Linked DNA regions of Homo sapiens. The protein of the gene in region 1 purifies or fractionates together with the protein of each later gene. This does not show direct contact. Each region holds a gene or a part of one and is shown on either strand. Other genes may lie near its edges. The genes, in order: COPZ2, RDH13, COPB2, ARCN1, ZMPSTE24 and COPB1.

Region 1 (3,500 bases):
TGTATTTTTAGTAGAGACGGGGTTTCACCATGTTAGCCAGGATGGTCTCGATCTCCTGACCTCGTGATCCGCCCACCTCAGCCTCCCAAAGTGCTGGGATTACAGGTGTGAGCCACCATCCCCGGCCAATAGAAATTTCTTGAGCTCCTTAAAAACATACATCCCTCTATCATTACATCATTTTATACATTAGGAAACAGGCTCAAAGTTTCAAGTGACACGCCGGAGGTCTCTCACACAGCTAGGGAGTGGCAGGGCCAAGATCTAAAACCATGTGAATAGTTCCAGAGGCCATGCTGTTTCTATGGCACTGTACTGGACTGCCTGGGGCACTAAGGAATGCCTCCTGCAGATTTCTGGGACCCAAAAGGGAGTGGGGTAACGCCAGGTTTTGGGGAGCCAGAAGCATATACAATTTGGTGAACCCTCTTGAAGGAAAACTTTACACAAACACACACAAAACTATAAATGCAAAACAAGATGCAGGGCTCTGGATGGCTGTGCAAAGGAGGATGCCTGAGGTGTAAGCTTCACAAGCTTCCCGTCTCTGCCTCTGAGGAACTCAGTTTCCTGCCAAGAAAAACTGGGGAAGCGCCAGTCGGGAGGCAACGCCTAAACTGGAGCCTTGGCCTGGGATGCTCTTTCTTTATGGATTACAGGACCCCTGGTTAGGGAGCTTGGGACAGGGGGTGCTCAGCCCAAGGATGGGGACTGGAAGAGGCTCCCAAGAAATGTTTGTCATTTCCAGTGATTTAGTAACAAAGAGAAACAAAGCTTCTGCCTTGGAGGAGTCTCAGTGGGTAAGGAGGTACACTCAGATCCTGTCATCTTTGTCCTGCCGCAGTGACAGGCCCTCACGCCCATGTACCCTGTACATAACCCCAAGGCCTCACGAAGGAGCGCCTGCTCTCTGAGAAAAGCTACAATATTTGGGTCTATCAAAAGGGAATTTTTTTGTTTGTTTCTTTGTGTGTGTGTGTGTGTGTGTGTGTGTGTGTGTGTGTGTGTTTTGAGATGGAGTCTCACTCTGTCGCCCAGGCTGGAGTGCAGTGGCGTGATCTTGGCTCACTGCAACCTCTGCCTCCTGGGTTCAAGCAATTCTCCTGCCTCAGCCTCCCGAGTAGCTGGGATTATAGGCGTGCGCCACCATTACCGGCTAATTTTTTTTGTATTTTCAGTAAAGACGGGGTTTCACCATATTGGCCAGGCTGGTCTCGAACTCTTCACCTTGTGATCCTCCCACCTTAGCCTCCCAAAGTGCTAGGATTGCAGGCGTGAGCCACTGTGCCTGGCCTAAAAGGGAAGATTTAAAAAAAAAATTTTTTTTTTTTAGACAGAGTCTCACTGTGATGCCCAGGCTGGAGTGCAGTGGCGCAATCTTGGCTCACTGCAACCTCTGCCTCCCGGGTTGAAGCGATTCTCCTGCCTCACCCTCCCAATTAGCTGGAATTACAATGTGTGCCACCATGCCTGGCTGATTTTTGTACTTTTACTAGAGACAGGGTTTCGCCATGTTGGCCAGGCTGGTCTGGAACTCCTGACCTCAGGTGATCCACCCGCCTCGGCCTCCCAAAGTGCTGGGATTACAGGCATGAGCCACCGTGCCCAGCCTTAAAAAAAAAAAAAAAGGGAGGAAGTAGGGGAGAAGGTAGATGCTGATTTTTGGAGTTTCATTTCTTTTATGCAGGGCATGACCCCATGCCATAAAATAACAGTGCAACAAGATAAGAACCCCCAGGGCCTCTCTTCCTAACTCTTTTCACAGGGAATCCAATCCTATACCCAGAAAGTGAAGTGAACTTTCAAGAGCTCTGAGTTTTGAGAGTCCCTGCTTTTGACAACCTGATCATCCTAGACCAGACTGTTCTTATCCAGTTTCAAAGATTTTGCCCAGGGATGACAAAGCATGTGGACCACTGGGTTGAAGCATCAAAGAATCAGAGCTGAGGGCTCTCCATGCTGAGGGAGAGTTCTGACTTGAGGGCTATCAGTGGGAAGGGACCTGGAAGGTGGAGATGTTGCAGGATGCCTTCGGAGAGGGAAGAGGCTTGGCAAGGAGAAGGGGCGGAGGGGAGGATTGTGCCACTGATTTGCCTCCTGGTTTTTCCTCTCATCTTGTAGTGTGATTCTGGAGAGTGACCCCCAGCAAGTGATCCAGAAGGTGAATTTTAGGGTAAGAGTCTTCCTGGACACCTCCTCTTTTAGGCTGCCCTTCCTGTCCTCCCTGGGAATAGGGCTGCTAGGGCCTAGATGGTAGAAGCCCAAGCTCCTCTAGCAGAAGCCAACCACTGGGCTGACACACTTGTTAGGGGTGAGATGAGCAGCAGTTTCTGGGTGGGATGCCAGTTAATGGAAGAAATCTTCCTGTCCTCTCCCCGGCTAGGAGCACAAGTACCTCACCTCTTTCCTGGTAGGAAGTATAGACTGGGGAAATAAATACATCTTCAAAGAGGCACTAGGTGGCTGCCTTGGCCTTGAGGTTGGGGGTCAGGGGTATGGATAGAACCTCCCTGCCTTGTTTGGCTTTCTCATGTCTGGATGAAACCTTTCTTCCCATCTTTCTTCCCATCTTCCCTCACCCTCCACGCACCATAGCACAATCCCAGAGGTCCTGGCTTCCAAATGACAGGCTGCAGGACTTCTATTAACCAGTGACACAGGTGCAGCTCTGAATCACCCTAACCACTGCACCACCTCACCCATACCCCCAAGCCCCTTTCCTTCACCTCCCTGACCCAGGACCCTCATGCTGGCCCTACCCCACCCCTTGACTCTGCTTCCTTACAGGCAGATGATGGCGGCTTGACTGAACAGAGTGTGGCCCAGGTAGGCCCCCCTGCATCTGCCTTGGCTAGAAATGGTCTAGAGAGATACGGGGAGCAGAGCATCCTAGAGCATCCTAGGGGGACCCAGTGAAGTTATCAAGTCTGAAAAATCAGGGGTGAGAAGGGAAGGGATGAGGCAGTGACAGGTCATATCTTGGAAAGACTCACTGGAGGCCTCCGGGCTCTCCAACTCAGGGGAGCTGGGTACTAATGGATGGATGGGCATGTTACCATCAGCCCACCTCATCTCCTGGCTTGGTTTAGTTGGATTGAAACTAGGATGAGCTGCCTACCTTGGAGATGGCTGGGTCACTTGTGCACCCCAAAAATCTGGGAACTCAGGCCTCTGATGCGCCCTCTACCGAAACCTGGAAAGGGTACCAAATAGGAGTTTGGCTCTTAACCCCTGTCCTTGCCACTTAGGGTGCACACTGGGATTGTTAAGGGACTCTCAAACCCATGATAGGATCTGACTTTCCCCACTCATCACTTGTCACCTTACCCCTGAGTGACCTGGCTATGGAAGAACCTGCCACAACCCTGCATGGTCTTATCTGGAGGTGCTTGCAGAGCGTAAGGCCAGGGGGAGGTTCCTGGCTCTGAAGCCTGATCAGTTCCCCAGCTGCACAAACTTCCTGCTAGTTCAGGACGACTGTCTTGACCTCTCTTCTGTCC
Region 2 (3,500 bases), on another chromosome or scaffold:
AGACAGGAGAATCACTTGAACCGAGGAGGCAGAGGTTGGAGTGAGCCAAGATTGTGCCACTGCACTCCAGCCTGGGTGACGAGCAAAACTCCGTCTCAAAAAAAAAAAGACATTTATTTATTTATTTATTGAGACCTGGTGTCTTGCTCTGTCACCCAGGCTGGAGTGCAGTGGTGTGATCTCAGCTCACTGCAACCTCTGCCTCCCGGGTTCAAGCGATTCTCCTGCCTCAGCCTCCTGAGTAGCTGGGACTACAGGTGCACACCACCACACCTGGCTAATTTTTGTATTTTTAGTAGAGACGGGGTTTCACCATGGTGGCCAGGCTGGTCTCGAACTCCTGACCTGAGGTAATCCGCCCACCACAGCCTCCCAAAGTGCTGGGATTACAGGCGTGGCTATTAGCCTCGCCAAGTTAAGATTCTTGATGCCAACCAATCACCCACTCCATGTTTTTCAGGATTATAAACACTAGTCATAAAGCATGAACTGCCTGGGGGTGGTGGCTCACACCTGTAATCCCAGCACTTTGGGAGGCAGTTGGATCACCTGAGGTCAGGAGTTTGAGACTAGCCTGACCAATATGGTGAAACCCCACCTCTAGCTGGGTGTGGTGGTGTGCACCTGTAATCCCAGCTACTTGGAGACAGGAGAATCGCTTGAACCTGGGAGGTGGAAGTTGCAGTGAGTGGAGATCATGCCATTGTACTCCAGCCTGGGCGACAGAGCAAGACTTCATCTCAAAAATAAGTAAGTAAAGCTCCAACTGTTTGTTCCACCTATTCTCTGGGCGGGGTCCTGTGCTGGCCCTTTCAAGGAAGGTCTCGTATAACCCCCCCAGTGACTGTGAGGTGAGTCCTATTAAGGCCTGCACTCTGCAGATGAAGAAACAGGCTCAGAGGGGTAACAGCTCTTCCCCAGGAGGTGCAGCTGGTTTGGGGTGAAGCTGGAGTTACCCTGAGTACAGCCTGACTCCAGGCGTCAGCTCCACGGCCTCTTCCTCTGAGACACGGTTTTCTCATCCGCCAGCAGGGCTCTGCCTGCTTCCCGGGGCTGTTAGAGGCTGGCAGGCCAGGTCAACGGAGGAAAGGGACCTGTGCTCTGTGCCTCAGAAGACGTAGGCGAGGAGCAGGCATGAGGCCTCAGGGACGGTCTCTGAGGGAGGGTCCTGGGCCCTGGGCTGAGAAAGCAGGGGTGGAGGGCTCCACGTGGAGACCCCAGGCTGGGAGGGGACTCACCGAGTGTGGTGCTGGAGAAGGTGGAGCCATGGATGCCCGTGTGTCTGCCCAGCTCTGTCCTGGCCACGCCGGGGTGCAGGGCGTTGACAGTCACACCAGAGCCTGGGGAAGAAAGAAAGAGAAGACTGAGGGAGGGGTCCAGCCTCACCTGGGAGGCTGTGGCAGCCCACACCCAGCTGTGGGGCTTCCGGGCACCAGGCTGCTTCCTGCACTCAAACCCCATCGTCCCTCTTGCTCTGGAATCTTAGTGAAGTGGTCTTATCTTGCGGAGCGGCTCTGCCACATGGCTGCTGGGAGCCGAGCTTTCCTGGAGGGCTTCATAAACCCAGAACGCTGAGCTTACCCCGGGAGCCTGCATCGGTGCGTGGCGGTGGGACCTAAGATACTGTAACTCTGACCAGCTCCCAGTGGGGCTGGCACCGCTGGTCCACAGACCGTCTTTCAGAAGCAAAGGCCTAGCACAGATTTCTCAATCTCAGCACTGTGGATGCTGTGGGTTGGGAGGAGTGAGGGGCCATCCCGTGCGCTGTAGGACATTGAGAGCATCTGGGCCTTTACCCTCCAGATGCCCAGAGCAATCTCTCCCCAAGCCAGCTGTGATCACTGTGTTTCCAGGCATTGACAACTGCGGGTCAAAACTGCCCCTGGTTGAGACTCACTGGCTGGAGCCAAAAGGCTGAGCTGCCTGCCCAACAGCAGCAGGGAAGGACATCTGATCCAGGCAGACTAGACCACCTGGGATGAACAGACAATCCTCAGAAGAACGATCGATTAGTGATGTCTGCTTCAGGCACCAGAAGCGGGCAGCGTGGTCCACATGCTCTACTTTTGCTGACTCTGTTCTGGATCCACCGTTTGGCCTCCCATCAGCCTAGGATCATGGAAAGGCCGCTCTAGGCTCAGAGTAAAGCAAGAGGGAGGCCGAGCCTAGCGCCCCCGTACCTTGCAGCCGCCGGCTCAGCTCCTTGGTGAAGAGGACGATGGCGAGCTTGCTCTGGCAGTAGGCGGCTTTGGTGTTATACTTCCTCGTCTGCCAGTTCAAGTCGTCAAAGTCTATGTGCCCAGCAACATGGGCCAGGGACGAGAGGTTGATGATCCGCGAAGGGGCTGAGGCTTTCAGCTTGTCCAGCAGCAAGTTTGTCAAGAGAAAGTGACCTGGATTAAGGATGATGAAAAGGTCACTTTTGACTCACACCTAAAATCCCAGCACTTTGGGAGGACGACGGGGGAGGATCGCTTGAACCCATGGTGCAGCCCCTGCCCAGGCCTCACCCAGGTGGTTAACGCCAAACTGCATCTCGAAGCCGTCCTCGGTGGTCCAGTGGGGGCACCGCATCACACCCGCGTTGTTGATTAGAATGTCCACTCGCTCCTCCTCTGGAAGAGAGGGGTGGAGGAGGAGACATCCCGGTGAGGACAGACCCCAGCCTGATGCACCAGCAGAAACACTCCTGTGCTCCCACAACCTGTGAATGTGGCCTGTGCCGGAAACAGGGTCTGTGCCGAAGTGGCCATGTCAGGATGCGGTCATTAGGGTGAGCCCTAATCCAATGACTGGTGTCCTTATAGGAAGGGAAAACAGAGACAGAGACACATGGGGAGAAGGCCATGTGTGGACAGAGGCAAAGACCGGAGAGGCACAGCTCCAAGGTGAGGGTGGGCCGCCCCCGCTGGAAGTGGAAGAGGCTGGGAGGATTATGGCCCGTCTCACAGGTCACAGCCACAGGGACACCGCGATTCAGACTGCCGGCTTCCGGAACCGTGAGGGAATGCACGTCTGAGGGTGTAAGCCACTGGGTTTGCAGTACATTGTTACAGCAGCTCCAGGACACTCACACGCCCTCCGCACCTCCATCTAAGCCTTGGGACTCCTTCCTGCCGGAGCCCCGAGGCCAAAAACGGGAGGTTACCGGTGGGAGCCCCGGCACCGCAGGCGTGGTTTCATTCCCAAACCTGCCACCTCACTCATACAAGCAACCAAAGGACACACAGATGGAGACTGCAGCCTCAGTTTCCTCAGCTGTAAAATGCGCTGAACCACAGGGCCTTCCTCCCTGTACCACTCAGCTCGGGTTCCGTAACAAAGTGCCACAGACAGGTGGTTTAAAACCTCACAGACCTGGCCGGGCACAGTGGCTCACGCCTGTAATCCCAGCACTTTGGGAGGCCGAGGTGGGCAGATCACCTGAGGTCAGGAGTTTGAGACCAGCCTGGCCAACATGGAGAAACCGCGTCTTTACTAAAAATACAAAATTAGCCAGG
Region 3 (3,500 bases), on another chromosome or scaffold:
GCAGGTCTGGGCATCTTATAATGCTGTGCTGAGTATTGAAAAAGACAAAAGATATAAACCAAGTATGCCGCCTAGTTCAGTAAATGGTATCCATAATTATTTGTAATATAATTGTCTTATAAAGGTTAAGAATGCATTATGCATATTTCCCTTAATATCGTAAAACATTCTTGGCTGTAAGTTTTGCCTTTGGCAGTCTTTTGATACCAGCCTTTACAGTGTTATAAACAACTTTAAAGATAGTTGTCTTATGTCCATTGGGAAAATTTTCGTTGACTCTGCAGCATTCTGTTTTCTCATTATTTAAATGTTAAAATATCCTCTGTATTTTGCTGAATTTAAGTCTTTAAAACCTGGAGTGAGATATTTTTATTCATTTGAATGATCAGCTTTAAAATGAAGATAGTCTTTGTAATAATATAGTGCCTTCCTGTGGTATAAATGTCATGAGCAAAGTTCTAGGCATCTTGGTGCTCAACAAATACTGGTTGAATAATTGGAATCCTCCTCCTTTGCATTTCCAGCCATTCTCACCTTCCTGCCTCCAGTTGCCTTTATTTATGAGAAGACCATTCCAATAACATTTCAGCAGTAATGCCATATTCATAATTTCCTTTTCAATTTGTTGGCTAGAATTTTTTTTGTAACTTTGTATTCAAAGAAATGTATAACTTTTAAAAGATGTTAAATTGTAATAATGAACTAAATAACATTTGTTATTAGAATTCTTTTACCATAACATGAATTATTGTTCCTTAACTTCTACATGTCTTTGGTCCTCTGTACTTCCCTCCCTGGCTTCTGTGATTTCTAGGTTTGTGGTGGTGTGTGGTGATGGGGAGTATATCATCTACACAGCAATGGCATTGAGAAACAAGAGCTTTGGATCTGCTCAGGAGTTTGCATGGGCCCACGATTCTTCAGAGTAAGTTTTGATTGTATGATAGCCAGCATGCCCTGATTGCAGATGTGTTGTGTGCTGCTTGAAGACTCTCAAGGCTTGATGTGGGCTGTGATTCTCCGTGTTAAAAAACAGTTCTCACCAGAGCTGTCCATTGGAAGATGAGAGTCAGAGGCGAGTGTATAGCATGAGCCGTCTTAGTGCTTTCTTTGTTCTGCGTTAGGCTGGCTCACTCAAGCTGATACAATAATTCCATTTAACTGGGGACCCAGCACCCATTTCTTTGATGGAGCCCATGGCAGGACCTGGTGCTTTATGGGCTTAAGGCACAGTAGACCCTCATGTCTGCCTTGGCAGGCCTTGGCATGCCCTCCCTGTGATGTAGTGTCCTGAGGTGCTACTGCCCCTTTATGAGCTACTTGGGAGTGATGTTGTGGTTTGATCATTTTGATGAGAAATTTATTAAATCTTTTTTAAAACTTATTTTCTGTGATAGTACCCACTGCCCATTCTTAACAAATTTCTGTCTGAATTCAGAATGTTCATAAAATGTTCTCATTAAAAGCAGGAAAGATCATTTAACTCTGACTTTTTTACTAGTCATTGGCTCTGGTTCCTTTTTGATTCCTGTTTAATGCACGTAATAAACATTAGGGGTTTAGTGTTTTCAGACCACACAACTGAATTACATTTTCACAGTTTTTTTAGTTTTGTTTGCCCCACATTTTATGTTGCATCTTGCCCCCAACAGTGGGGTAACTTAAGCCTCAGCGTTGTGTAATAAGATACATTTTTTAAAATGTTACAACAGTAAGATTTATTGAGAGGTATGGAATTGTTCTGATATTTTCATAAATTTCCTAAATACACATATACATACAGTTCTATGTATTCAAAGGTAATGTGTTATCTTAAGCAAAATTATAGTTGATGAATTGCCTTCTCTCAGCACACCTCTTCCTCTATTTTGATAGTCCTTTTTTTCAGCTCTATCCAGCCAAGACCTTGCTCAGCATCTTTCCTGTCCTGAGCAAAGCCCTCATCACATCACTTCCTCAGACAATCTTAAATATCCAGTGATAGCCACAGCTCCTTTTTTCAAGGCAGAGGCCTGAATATAAGCAGTTGTTGCTGATGATGGCTGATTAATGAACCATTTGTCACAGTTTTTATTATTTAAATCGCCCTTATTGAGGTATAATTTACAGAAGACAGAATGTACCACTTAATTGTACAGCGATCCCCCGATCTGTGGTTTCCCTTCCTGCAGTTTTAGTTACCCACAGTCAACTGTGTTCCAAAAATATTAAGTGGAAAAGTCCAGAAATAAACAACTCATAAGTTTTAAATTGCCCAGTGTTCTGAGTTGCATGGTGAAATCTTGAGCCATCCTACCTGGGACGTGAATCATCGCTTTGTCTAGCATATCCACATTGTATATGCTGCCCACCTCTTACATTATAGGAAAAAACATAGTGTATATAGGGTTCAGTACTATCTGAGGTTTCAGGCATCCATTGGGGCTTAGAACGTATCCCCCATGGATAAGGGAGGACTACTGTTCATGTCAGTAGATTTGGGCAAATGTATGTAATCCGTAACTACTAACACAATCAAATTATAGAACATTTCTATCATCCCCGCAAAATCCCCTTGTCTCCATTAACAGTCTGTCCATACCCCCCATCCACCCATTCCCCAGTCCCAGGCAAACACTGATGAGTGCCTTTTGTCACTATATAGATTAGAGTTGTCTTTGGAGTTTCATATAAATGGAATCATACAGTATGTACTCTTGAGTCCAGCATCTTTTGTTCAGTATAATGTTTTTGAGATTCATCCATATTCTTGCCTGGATCAGTAATTGGTTTCTTTATTTGCAGAGTAGCATTCCATTATATGAATATACGATAATTTGTTTAATCATTCACCTATTGTGGACATTTGGGTCATTTTCAGTTTCTAAAGTGGTTTGTAAGCCCTAGTAATTCATGTCATACACAGTATAAAACCCTTTCATCATTTGTCCAACTGTAAGGAGTTCTCTGATCTCTTAGGAAAACAGTACATCAGATAATCTTCAAATATTTATTTTATATTTTTGCATAATTACTGAAAAATATTTGAAGATATTTCCAACATTTGGTAGAACTATGATTTAGTATATAACATGTTATGTTTGCCTTCCCTTTTTTCTCCCAGGTATGCAATAAGAGAGAGCAACAGCATTGTAAAGATATTTAAGAACTTTAAGGAAAAAAAATCATTTAAACCAGATTTTGGAGCAGAAAGTGAGTGTGATCTACATATGATACATTTTTAAATTCTTTGTAATGGCTCAAAAATGCCTAAGCAAAACTCTTTTTATGTTCCCTTTAGGTATCTACGGCGGCTTCTTATTGGGAGTCAGATCTGTAAATGGCTTAGCCTTCTATGACTGGGACAATACAGAACTCATACGAAGAATTGAAATTCAGCCCAAACATGTGAGTTTCCCCTCCATTGTTGTTTTTGGAATATTTATTTTTGTGATGAGTTCTGGGTCCCTAAGGCCAAGAAGTGTCTTTTGTACCCTGCTCTCCCTCTTCGATTATCAAAA
Region 4 (3,500 bases), on another chromosome or scaffold:
TTTCTAGTTCTCAATGCAAACTAGCTTAGTGGGACTGGCCAGAGGCACTTACTTGTCAGTGGAATAAAAGATTCCTCTGTGGTTTGTAGTCTCCACTTTAGCACCCCTACGTCACTGTTGACTGGAAATGACTTCTCTGGATTCTTCAGGCCAATTAGAGACTCTGCAGTGAAAAGTTTTTTATCCACATTTGGATGGGTCTAGAATGAGAGGGAAAGGAAAACTCCTGAGGTTCAGATAGACGAGAAACAACCCCTCACTAGGCTTATATGGCCCACAATCTAAACATCCAAAATAGAGTACCTAACAAATTCCAATTCTTTTTCATTTTGAAGAAAGATTTCCCTTCTTCAAAGACTTATTTTAAAATGATTTAAGATACTTAAAAACTAGTAATTTTTTAAAAAAAAAGCTAATTTCAACTCTAAAAGCCATTACAGAACAAGTTTGCACCTGAAAAAGTTAAAAGACTATTAACCAAGTTCTTTCCAAAAATACTTCACAGGGAGCAGGTTCATGGTGGGGCCAGGTTTGCCAAGCAGAAGGCTCCAGTAAGACCCTGATCAGCTGCCTGGGTCAGACAGCAGTTCTGGCCTTATATAAAGTAGCAGAAAAGGGCAAGCTCTGTGTAAAGTCTAGTTGCAATTTTGCCTAGAGACTTAAAGTTGTTAAAATCCAAGCCAATTAAGATAGTCTTATCTTTTTAAAAGAAATTGCTTTTGGGGAGGCTGAGGTGAGAGGGGCATTGAAGGTCAGGAGTTTGACATCAGCCTGGCCAACATGGCAAAACCCTATCTCTATTAAAAATACAAAAGTTAGCTGGGGCTGGACATGGTGGCGCACGCCTGTAATCCCACCTACTCGAGAGGCTGAGGCAGGAGAATGGCTTGAACCCGGGAGGCAGAGGTTGCGGTGAGCCGAGATCACACCATTGCACTCCAACCTGGGCAGGAAGAGTGAAACTCCGTCTCAAAAAATAAAAAATAAATAAATAAATAAATAAATAAATAGCTGGGTGTGGTGGTGCACACCTATAGTTCCAGCTACTATGGAGGCTGAAGAGGAAGCATTGCTTGAGCCTAGGAGGTTAAGGCTGCAGCGAGCCAAGGTTGTGCTGCTGCACTCCAGCCCGCATGACAGAGAGAGACTGTGCAAAAACAAAAAAAAAAACAAAAAAAAGAACAAAAAAACAAGACAAAAACAAAAAAAACCCAGAAGGGCTGGGCATGGTGGCTCATGACTACAATCCCAACACTTTGGGATGATGAGGTGGGCGAATCATGAGGTCAAGAGTTCGAGACCAGCTTGGCCAACATGGTGAAACCCCATCTTTACTAAAAATAAAAAAAATTAGCTGGGCATGGTGGCAGGTGCCTGTAATCCCAGCTACTCAGCAGGCTGAGGCAGGAGAACTGCTTCAACTGGGGAGGCAGAAGTTGCAGTGAACCAAGATCGTACCACAGAACTCCAGCTTGGGCAACAGAGAGAGACTCCATCTCAGGAAAACAAAACAAAACAAAACAAAACAGAAATCACTTTTGGATAGCACTTTACAAGCCAGCAAAAATGTCAAATAATATAAGCACTGCTTCCAAAAGACAATTCTGTGCTGACTACGGTGGGGAAAGTAGACAAAAACACTCTTCCGTAAAAAGGCTTTGTTCTTGTGACGAGATGTCGGCTAAATGAAATGAAATTACAAGAACACCTGTAACATAAAGCAGGGCTTATATATATCTATCCAATAGTTGGAACACACACACTTATATTGAAAGGATTTTATGTACTTTTCAAATACACCATTAGATACTGCCCTTCAGTTAACAAAACAAGCACTGGCAGTTTATTTAATAGCAGAATGAGTAAATTTCGCATTGTGCCACCACGCCTGGCTAATTTTTTAAGTTTTTGTAGAGATAGGGTCTTGTTGCTCAGCCCTCATTGCTCAGGCTGTTCTTGAACTCCTGGGCTCAAGCGATCCTTCAGCCTCAGCCTCTCAGAGTGCTGGTATTATAGGCATGAGCCACCACACTTGGCCTAAAGCCTTGTTTTTTTAAAACTGTATTTCAAGCAAGATCCTAAGTGATTAATTTACTGTTTTCATAACAGCAAAAGACAAACACCTCCTTGTACCTTTTATTGGTGAGTATGAAGTCATTTATTAGATTTCGAAATGACCTTTTATTCAATTCCAATATTTAAAAGCCATCCTTACACAGCTGCTTTACTCACTCTCAGGTAGCTACTGTATGCAATATATTAACTTCTTTCCTAAGCGTTTAGAGTGATGCTAGTTATATAACTTAAGTAATTTTCTGTGGTTCATATTGGGAACTCTAGTTGAGAAAGACTATAATAGGTAGACAAAGTGTTAATACTCCCTATCAAAAGCTTCTACACACCTGTAGCTGCACCCCTTTCTTATCTTCATTTTCCACATGAAGACGAATTCGGCCATACTTGTCATCTGAGATCCTAAGCATGATCATGCCATGCAACTCCATATTCTGTAATCCTCCGTCTCGTCCACAGGTTAATGTTATCTTTTCTTCAATCTTCATATGTACACTATAAAGAGAAAGTAATACATTTGTTCAGAAAGGTAGAAACCAATGGCCGGGCGTGGTGGCTCATGCCTATAACCCCAGCACTTTGGGAGGCCAAGGCGGGCAGATCACCTGAGGTGGGGAGTTCGAGACCAGCCTGACCAACATGGAGAAACCCCGTCTCTACTAAAAATACAAAATTAGCCAGGCGTGGTGGTGCATGCCTGTAGTCCCAGCTACTTGGGAGGCTAAGGCAGGAGAATCGCTTGAACCACGAGGCAGAGGCTGTGGTGAGCCGAGATTGTCCCACTGCACTCCAGCCTGGGCAACAAGAGTGAAACTCTGTCTCAAAAAATAAAAAAGAAAAGAAAAGAAAAAAGAAAGGTAGAAATCAGAACTCCCTTTCTCCAAGGTCTAATGATTAGCCATCAACAACGTTTTTTTAAAGGTGCTACTGCTATAGCTATCAACATTTAAAAGGCGATACCCTTTGATACAGCAATTCTTCAACAGACTCTATCCTACAGATAAATTCTCACCTGTGCAAAACAATCTGCTAAGTTATTCACTGAAGAATTGTTTGTAATGGCAAAAGTTTAGAAACATGTCTGCCAATAGGGGGCTGCTCAAATAAAGGCATATTCACGGGCGTGGTGGCTCACGCCTGTAATCCCAGCACTTTGGGAGGCCAAGGCGGGTAGATCACGAGGTCAGAAGATCGAGACCATCCTGGCTAACATGGTGAAACCCCACCTCTACTAAAAATACAAAAACAAAATTAGCCGGGTGTGGTGACGGGCGCCTACTCAGGAGGCTGAGGTGGGAGAATGACGTGAACTCAGGAGGCGGAGCTTGCAGTGAGCCGAGATGGTGCCACTGCACTCCAGCCTGGGCAACAGAGTGAGACTCTGTCTCAAAAAAATAAAAAATAAAAAATAAAGGCATATCCACCCG
Region 5 (3,500 bases), on another chromosome or scaffold:
GTTGGCCAGGCTTGTCTCGAATTTCTGACCTCAAGTGATCCGCCCACCTCGGCCTCCCCAAGTGCTGAGATTACAAGCATAAGCCACTGCGCCTGGTCCAAATAGTGCTTCAATAAGCAGTTTTTCTGCTTAAATCAGCCACAGTTGGTTTCTATTGCTTGCAGAATTCTAATACAATGTTTAGTAGGTTCCTCAATATGTAATATAGCCATTAGAAGTCTTAATTCCCCACAAACCTACTCTTCTCCTATTTTTTTCCATCTCAGGAAACTACCATATATCTAACTGCTCAGGTCAAAAGTCTAGGCCATTATCTTTGATGTCACTCTTTCCCTTATTCTCCCAATGCAATCAATTAGAAAATTCAATCAACTCTACCCTAAAACTTGTCCCAAATGTATCCACTTCTCTCCATTAATTACTATTATCCTAGTCTAAGCTACCATTATGTCCTACCTAGACTTTTGCCTGTCTCTACAACATATTCTCCATACAGTAGCCCAGGATATTTTAAAAACACAAAGCAGATCATGTCACTTTCCTGTCTAAGCCTTCAATGGCTCTTCCCACTGAACTCAAAATCCAAACTCCTTACCCTGACTTACAAAGGCCTATGTGGACTGATTCTTGCCTATGTCTCAGATTTCATCTCCTAACACTCTCCTGCTATGGTGCAGCCACACTGGACTTCTTCATGGTCCTTGAACATCTTCCCATTGACGTCAAATGGGCGGCTCCTCCCTTTAGGTCTCAGCTCAATCTGATGACCAATCTACAGTATCAACTTATCAGACCAAACTAGTTTAATTTGCTGCATAGCACTTGCTATCTGATAATATTTTGAGAGCAAGATTCTTGGCTTTTCACTACAATCTCCCTACCAATTTACAAATATGTAATGTGTGTTGTTATTGTCAGCAACAACATTCATTCATTCAAAATATTTTTGAGAATTGTTACTGTTGTTAACAACAATTAAAACATACATTATAGGTGAGTAAACTGCTGTTTGGCAAAGCTAAGTTGCGCAAAGTCACACAAGTAGTTTGTCTCGAACTCCTGACCTTCCACCTCAGCCTCCCCAGTAGATGGGATTACAGGCTGGAGCCACCAAGCCCAGCACTGGTAATCTGTGGTAGAGCTATGATTCAAACCCAAGCCTTTTGACCCTGAAGCCTGACGTCTGAAATGCTGCCCCCAACCTACTCAAATCTTGACTTCCCATTAACACCCAGCTCAGGTCATAACCTTCCATAAAGCCTTCCCTGACTATTTTATCTAAAATGAAAATAGCTCTCATACTCTGGATGTTGTAGGGGGAAAAAAAAAGATAAAAAGAAAATAGCACCGATATATTTCACATATTCTATTGACTACCTCCACTGTCATAGCATTAACTATTATTTCACGTTATCTGATTGTAACTTAAGGGATCAGCAACTTAGGTTGCTCCTTCAGTAAAAGCAGCTTAGAGACTATTCTGTTGTACTGATTAATGATTAAATTTCTAGTTTAATATTACCTAAAAAAAAAAGAGTAGTTATTTCAGAGGCTAAAGAAGTAAGTATGAACTGGCTTATTCTACCATTTCTCCACAGACTTTTAAGCTACTCCAATCGTGCCTTTAGTTGGGCTGTATATCCTCAGGAGCCACTAAATGTCTGACATATATATATATATATATATATATATATATATTTTTTTTTTTTTTTTTTTTTTAGACAGAATTTGGCTCTTGTTGCCCAGGCTAGAGTGCAATGGCTTGATCTTGGCTCACCACAACCTCCACCTCCAGGTTCAAGCGATTCTCCTGCCTCAGCCTCCCAAGTAGCTGGGATTACAGGCACGCACCACCACGCCCAGCTAATTTTTTGTATTTTAGTAAAGACAGGGTTTCACCATGTTGGCCAGGCTGGTCTCGAACGCCTGACCTCAGGTGATCCGCCTGCCTTGGCCTCCCAAAGTGCTGGGATTACAGGCGTGAGCCACAGCGCCCAGCCAGATGTCTGAAATTTCTATGTTCTTCCAGTTGCTGTTGATTCATTCTTTTCAGTTGTGACCATCTCTGTTCTCCTCTAACCCTGTGATTGTTTCTGCTTCTATTCCTTCATCTAACACTGCTGCTTCTCACTGGTAATATTTTATTTTAGAGCAGGGATCAGCAAACTGTAGCTCACAGGCCAAATCCAATCTGCCATTTATTTTCATAAAGTTTTATTGGAACACAGCCACACTCATTTGTTTAGTATTGTCTATGGCTGCTTTTGCGCTATAATAGTAGCACTGAATAGTTGCAACAGAGAACAAGTGGCCCGCAAAGCTAAAATATTTACTATCTAGCCCTTTACAAAAAACATTTGTGAAACCATAGCTTAGAGGAAATACAACTGAAACCCAGAAGGGTGAAGTCACTTGTCCAAGATCCTATAACTGGTAAGTGGCAGGAACAGAACTATTACATTCATTTATATGGACTTTATAAATTCTGAAAGTCATAGAACCTTACAACAGTTTCTCTCTACATCTCCGTAGTCTTCTTTGAGACTTTAATAGTCAACTACCAAAGTCTCAAAGAAAGTAATAGACTGGGTGTTAATGGGAAGTCAAGATTTGAGTAACGGTCAAGAGACCACTTAAATCTCAAAAGTAATCATCAAAAAAGCAGAGTATAACAAATCTGCAGTACTCAGTGGTACTGCAGTCTTTGGTAATCAATCTTCAGGTGAGTCCTCCAGAACACTGGATATTTTCTTGGAGGAGACAAGGCCAATAACACTGGCTTTGTTTAAGAGCCTCCAAACTAATACTAAACAGAATTTGACTATTCAAGAGTCCAACTTAACTACCTAAAAGAACTAGGCAGATAACAGAAGTGAATAAATCAGTCTAATATATAAGATAACATAACAGAGAGTGAAAAAGCCTTGGCCAAAAATTTAAAACAATACTGTAAAACCAAACAAACATAGCTGCAGACAAGAGCAGGATTTGGTATCAAGCCACCAGTTTCTATCCCTGGCCTATGTTATCAATTTCTGTAAATCTTAAAAAGCCAAAAGGTAAACTCCTAGCCTTTAAATAACAAATTTTAAAAAGAAAAAAACAAAAACTGATTAATTCTTTTATTAAAATTTTAAGAATAAAGTATCAAATAAAACAAACCACTTGGATAAAACTTTCTTATCCCCAGGTAGCCTTACCTTCCACAACATACACCTTCGTCAAAGGAAAGTCAATACTCTTTGCCATTACTTCAATTTCTTCTTTAAGCTTTCCCTCAGGCAGAGGTGTGAATTTGTCAAATAAAGGGGCAATATAATCAGCATAGATTGTGACAAGAACCTGAAAAGTAAATGTCAGAATAACATATGAACATGTTCTTAAAGAAAAAACATTCTTTATTATACAGATTAAATTATATTAAAACAACTATGTTGACCTCAAACTTGAGAACAAGGAACTTACTTGCTCTGGTATTCCCAGGCCCAAATAGTACCAGA
Region 6 (3,500 bases), on another chromosome or scaffold:
AGCTATGTAGGATAATTTGATGTCAAGTAATGTGATTCCTTCAGTTTTGTTCTTTTTGCTTAGGATAGCTTTGGCTATTCTGGGTCTTTTGTGGTTCCATATAAATTTTAGGATTTTTTTTTTTTTTCTGTGAAGAATGTCATTGGTATTTTGATGGGAATTGCATTGACTCTAGATTGCTTTGGGTGGTATGGACATTTTAACAATACTGATTCTTCTAATCCATGATCATGGAATATCTTTCCATTTGTTGATGTTCTCTTCAATTTCTTTCATCAGTATTTATAGTTTTCATTGTAGAAATCTTTCATTTATTTGGTTAAATTAATTCCTAGGTATCTAATTTTATCTGTGGGTATTGTAAATGGGATTAGATTACTTCTTCAATTTCTTTTTCAGATTGTTCACTGTTGTCATATAGAAATGCTACTGATTTTTGTATGTTGATTTTGTGTCCTGGAACTTTACTAAATTTATCATATTTCTGAATTTTAAAAATGTATACCGTGTCTCCTTTTTGTGAGTGATTCTGTCAAGAAAAAAAAAATTTATAATTAATATGCTTTCCAAAGTAATGATTCTTGTTTAATTGAACTGCTAAAAATAAATACAACTTAAACTGATAAATATTGTTTAAACAGAGCAGAGTGAAAATTATGCTTCAAATATAGAAAGGATCTTTTAGAAGATAGTTTGCAGTTTGAAAAGAAACTTAATATTTTACTTGCCTATTCCCACTTCTTAATCAGCAGTAATGGAATACCTCCTGATTCTAGGTTACTTAATACTAGGTTTCTATTGAGGTCTATTTTTAGAGAAGGGAAAAGAAACCCAGTTTTATGATATTTAAAATGATACCATTATATACATAAGCCACATATATTTCCCTTTTTTCATGTTCATGTAGGATAGTTGAATGCAAAATAGTGAATACATTCATTAGTGTTTTTCCTCATAATTTAAAAATTTTCATTGTTAGATCCTCAGGATACCTAAGGTTATAGCTAGGAAGGTAAAGAATAAAATCTGCCCTTAGTTGGAACAATGCCCTAGTCTTAATTGAAGCTGCCTTAGCTACCTTCCTCCAACCAATAAATAAATACATACTCTCCAGTTTAATGTATATTTTTGCCATTAAGAAGAGTTGAGACTGGGCATGGTGGCTCATGCCTGTAATCCCAGCACTTTGGGAAGCTGAGGCAGGTGGATCACTTGACTTCAGGAGTTCGAGACCAGCGTGGCCAACATGGCGAAACCCCATCTCTAGTAAAAATACAAAAATTTTAAGTGGCTATTAAATGAAGAGTTCTGTGGGCCAGATGAACCACCGCATCTGACGCTCAGAACTCTGTTTCATAGCCGCTTAGCTCTAATCATTAGAAATGTATTTCTCATATTTAGGCCCAAATCTGGTTCCCGGTAACTACTACCCATTAGTTGTAGTTCTTTTCCTCATAATGGCCCTAAGGTTATTGAAGACTTGTAATCATTCTTTGTTCTCCCCTTCCCAAGATAATTCATTTATTTTGATGATCTAAACAGTTGTAGTACAGTGTGCTACTACATACTTCTCTGCCTTTGAGTTTTGGATCCAGAAGATTTTTAGTACTATAAATTCTTCAGTATGCAATGATAATGGTGTGAAATTTTAGATAGTTTTGCGTAAAATACTTTATGTTGCAGAGTTTTTAGGCTAAATAACAGTAAACTAGCATTTTATCTTTAATGTGTCATCCTTAATTCTAAATAATGACTACTAATCTAGAACATTTGAATTACCTCCCAGTTTTCCAGATGATATCTTAAGAAAGATTCTAAAGTTTTACAGCCTGCCTGCAGAACTATGATGAGATTTTAGAAATAATCCACTACTTTAGTTTTCAGCCTTTTTGAGTATGACGTTTCTCTTTCTAATGTTAAAAAAGTTACATATTTATCCTCCCATAATAGTAGTTTTAACTTTGTTAAAATGCACACAAATAGCTAAAAGCTGTTTTGAATTCAAAATCAATTAATAGTATGTATTTACATTTTGAAAAATAGCTATATGTGTTTTGAAACACGTTTACTTGGTATGACTGTAGATTCATGGAGCCTGCATTAACTCAATTGGTTAGGAACCAGAAATCTAATCCAGCGCCTTCATATTATATATAAAGAGTCTGATTTCCAGAGATAAATGACTTGAGCAAAGACAGATTATTTGGTGGAGAACCAGGTGGAGAACCTTGTCACTTGGGTTTGTACTTTTATTACCATTGCTGATACTGAAGTAAGAAGGTACATTTTATTTTGTTAATTGCTTTTAAATTTATGTGATGAATTTTCTTTTGAAATAATTGTGCTTTTTTTTAAAAAAATTTTTGATTCAGAAAAAGGAGATGTAAAGTCAAAGACTGAAGCTTTGAAGAAAGTAATCATTATGATTCTGAATGGTGAAAAACTTCCTGGACTTCTGATGACCATCATTCGTTTTGTGCTACCTCTTCAGGATCACACTATCAAGAAATTACTTCTGGTATTTTGGGAAATTGTTCCTAAAACAACTCCAGATGGGAGACTTTTACATGAGATGATCCTTGTATGTGATGCATACAGAAAGGTAAACCAAATCATAATTATTTCTGAATATTGCTTTGAATTTAAATGTAAAATTGGTAGAATGGGCTGTGTTTTAATTGTTAAAATTGAGTCTTTGATAAGATGTAAGTTGTAGAGATTTGGAATTGTAAAAGAGTTATTTTTAAAAGTTTTATTGTCACTTTTCAGACATTTTCTATGCATTTTATGTGTATATATTAATTAAAAAACAGTGACACACATATAAGACATTGATGAGATAGGTAAAAATTGCTTCAGTCAACAAGAATATGATGGAAATTGTCGGTAATCTAGGTTTTTTCTCAAACGTATTTTTTTTCCATTGGAAAGTTTTGCATTAAAATTTTCTTTTTGTAAAAAGCTGAAACTCAGCATTTCATATTTTAATTTTTATATCAGGATCTTCAACATCCTAATGAATTTATTCGAGGATCTACTCTTCGTTTTCTTTGCAAATTGAAAGAAGCAGAATTGCTAGAACCTTTAATGCCAGCTATTCGTGCATGTTTGGAGCATCGACACAGCTATGTTAGAAGAAATGCTGTTTTGGCCATCTATACCATCTATAGGTAAATAAAGATACTGCTTTGGCTTCATTCTGTGAGTACTGTTTAGTCTTTTAGACTAGTGGTTCCAAAGTGGTTGCTTGCAGACTGAATATAGCTTGAAGATATATTTTGTATGGCCAGCACTGTATTTTTTATTATGAACATTGAAAAGTCAAAAGATCTGGCAGCGCTGTTCCTAGCTTCCACAAGACAACATTCTGCTGAACTTGTATAACAGTAACCCCCTTTAAATAAGTTATATACTTTACAGTTTATGACAGTGCTTGTCATTCTCAACCGTATTACTCCAAGCCACTTTATATGTTCACTTGCTTAGCCTCTATAGGCTTT

Evidence for each region.
Region 2: the proteins of COPZ2 (region 1) and RDH13 purify together in Homo sapiens (affinity purification with mass spectrometry; one large-scale study listed by BioGRID and IntAct). This does not show direct contact.
Region 3: the proteins of COPZ2 (region 1) and COPB2 purify together in Homo sapiens (affinity purification with mass spectrometry; one large-scale study listed by BioGRID and IntAct). This does not show direct contact.
Region 4: the proteins of COPZ2 (region 1) and ARCN1 purify together in Homo sapiens (affinity purification with mass spectrometry; one large-scale study listed by BioGRID and IntAct). This does not show direct contact.
Region 5: the proteins of COPZ2 (region 1) and ZMPSTE24 purify together in Homo sapiens (affinity purification with mass spectrometry; one large-scale study listed by BioGRID and IntAct). This does not show direct contact.
Region 6: the proteins of COPZ2 (region 1) and COPB1 purify together in Homo sapiens (affinity purification with mass spectrometry; one large-scale study listed by BioGRID and IntAct). This does not show direct contact.

The regions. Positions count from the first base shown.
Region 1 is NC_000017.11:48,027,798-48,031,297, reverse strand, and holds part of COPZ2 (coatomer subunit zeta-2), read left to right. Parts: intron 1-2,121; coding exon 2,122-2,173; intron 2,174-2,787; coding exon 2,788-2,826; intron 2,827-3,500. UniProt on the Homo sapiens protein: The coatomer is a cytosolic protein complex that binds to dilysine motifs and reversibly associates with Golgi non-clathrin-coated vesicles, which further mediate biosynthetic protein transport from the ER, via the Golgi up to the trans Golgi network.
Region 2 is NC_000019.10:55,046,149-55,049,648, forward strand, and holds part of RDH13 (retinol dehydrogenase 13 isoform 1 precursor), read right to left. Parts: intron 2,616-3,500; coding exon 2,511-2,615; intron 2,394-2,510; coding exon 2,181-2,393; intron 2,110-2,180; exon of another isoform or gene 1,898-2,109; intron 1,341-1,897; coding exon 1,239-1,340; exon of another isoform or gene 957-1,238; intron 1-956. UniProt on the Homo sapiens protein: Retinol dehydrogenase with a clear preference for NADP. Oxidizes all-trans-retinol, but seems to reduce all-trans-retinal with much higher efficiency. Has no activity toward steroids.
Region 3 is NC_000003.12:139,369,148-139,372,647, reverse strand, and holds part of COPB2 (coatomer subunit beta'), read left to right. Parts: intron 1-814; coding exon 815-925; intron 926-3,103; coding exon 3,104-3,192; intron 3,193-3,280; coding exon 3,281-3,387; intron 3,388-3,500. UniProt on the Homo sapiens protein: The coatomer is a cytosolic protein complex that binds to dilysine motifs and reversibly associates with Golgi non-clathrin-coated vesicles, which further mediate biosynthetic protein transport from the ER, via the Golgi up to the trans Golgi network.
Region 4 is NC_000011.10:118,589,409-118,592,908, reverse strand, and holds part of ARCN1 (coatomer subunit delta), read right to left. Parts: intron 2,569-3,500; coding exon 2,403-2,568; intron 201-2,402; coding exon 53-200; intron 1-52. UniProt on the Homo sapiens protein: Component of the coatomer, a cytosolic protein complex that binds to dilysine motifs and reversibly associates with Golgi non-clathrin-coated vesicles, which further mediate biosynthetic protein transport from the ER, via the Golgi up to the trans Golgi network.
Region 5 is NC_000001.11:40,271,736-40,275,235, reverse strand, and holds part of ZMPSTE24 (CAAX prenyl protease 1 homolog), read right to left. Parts: intron 3,343-3,500; coding exon 3,201-3,342; intron 1-3,200. UniProt on the Homo sapiens protein: Transmembrane metalloprotease whose catalytic activity is critical for processing lamin A/LMNA on the inner nuclear membrane and clearing clogged translocons on the endoplasmic reticulum.
Region 6 is NC_000011.10:14,493,312-14,496,811, reverse strand, and holds part of COPB1 (coatomer subunit beta), read left to right. Parts: intron 1-2,372; coding exon 2,373-2,602; intron 2,603-3,000; coding exon 3,001-3,170; intron 3,171-3,500. UniProt on the Homo sapiens protein: The coatomer is a cytosolic protein complex that binds to dilysine motifs and reversibly associates with Golgi non-clathrin-coated vesicles, which further mediate biosynthetic protein transport from the ER, via the Golgi up to the trans Golgi network.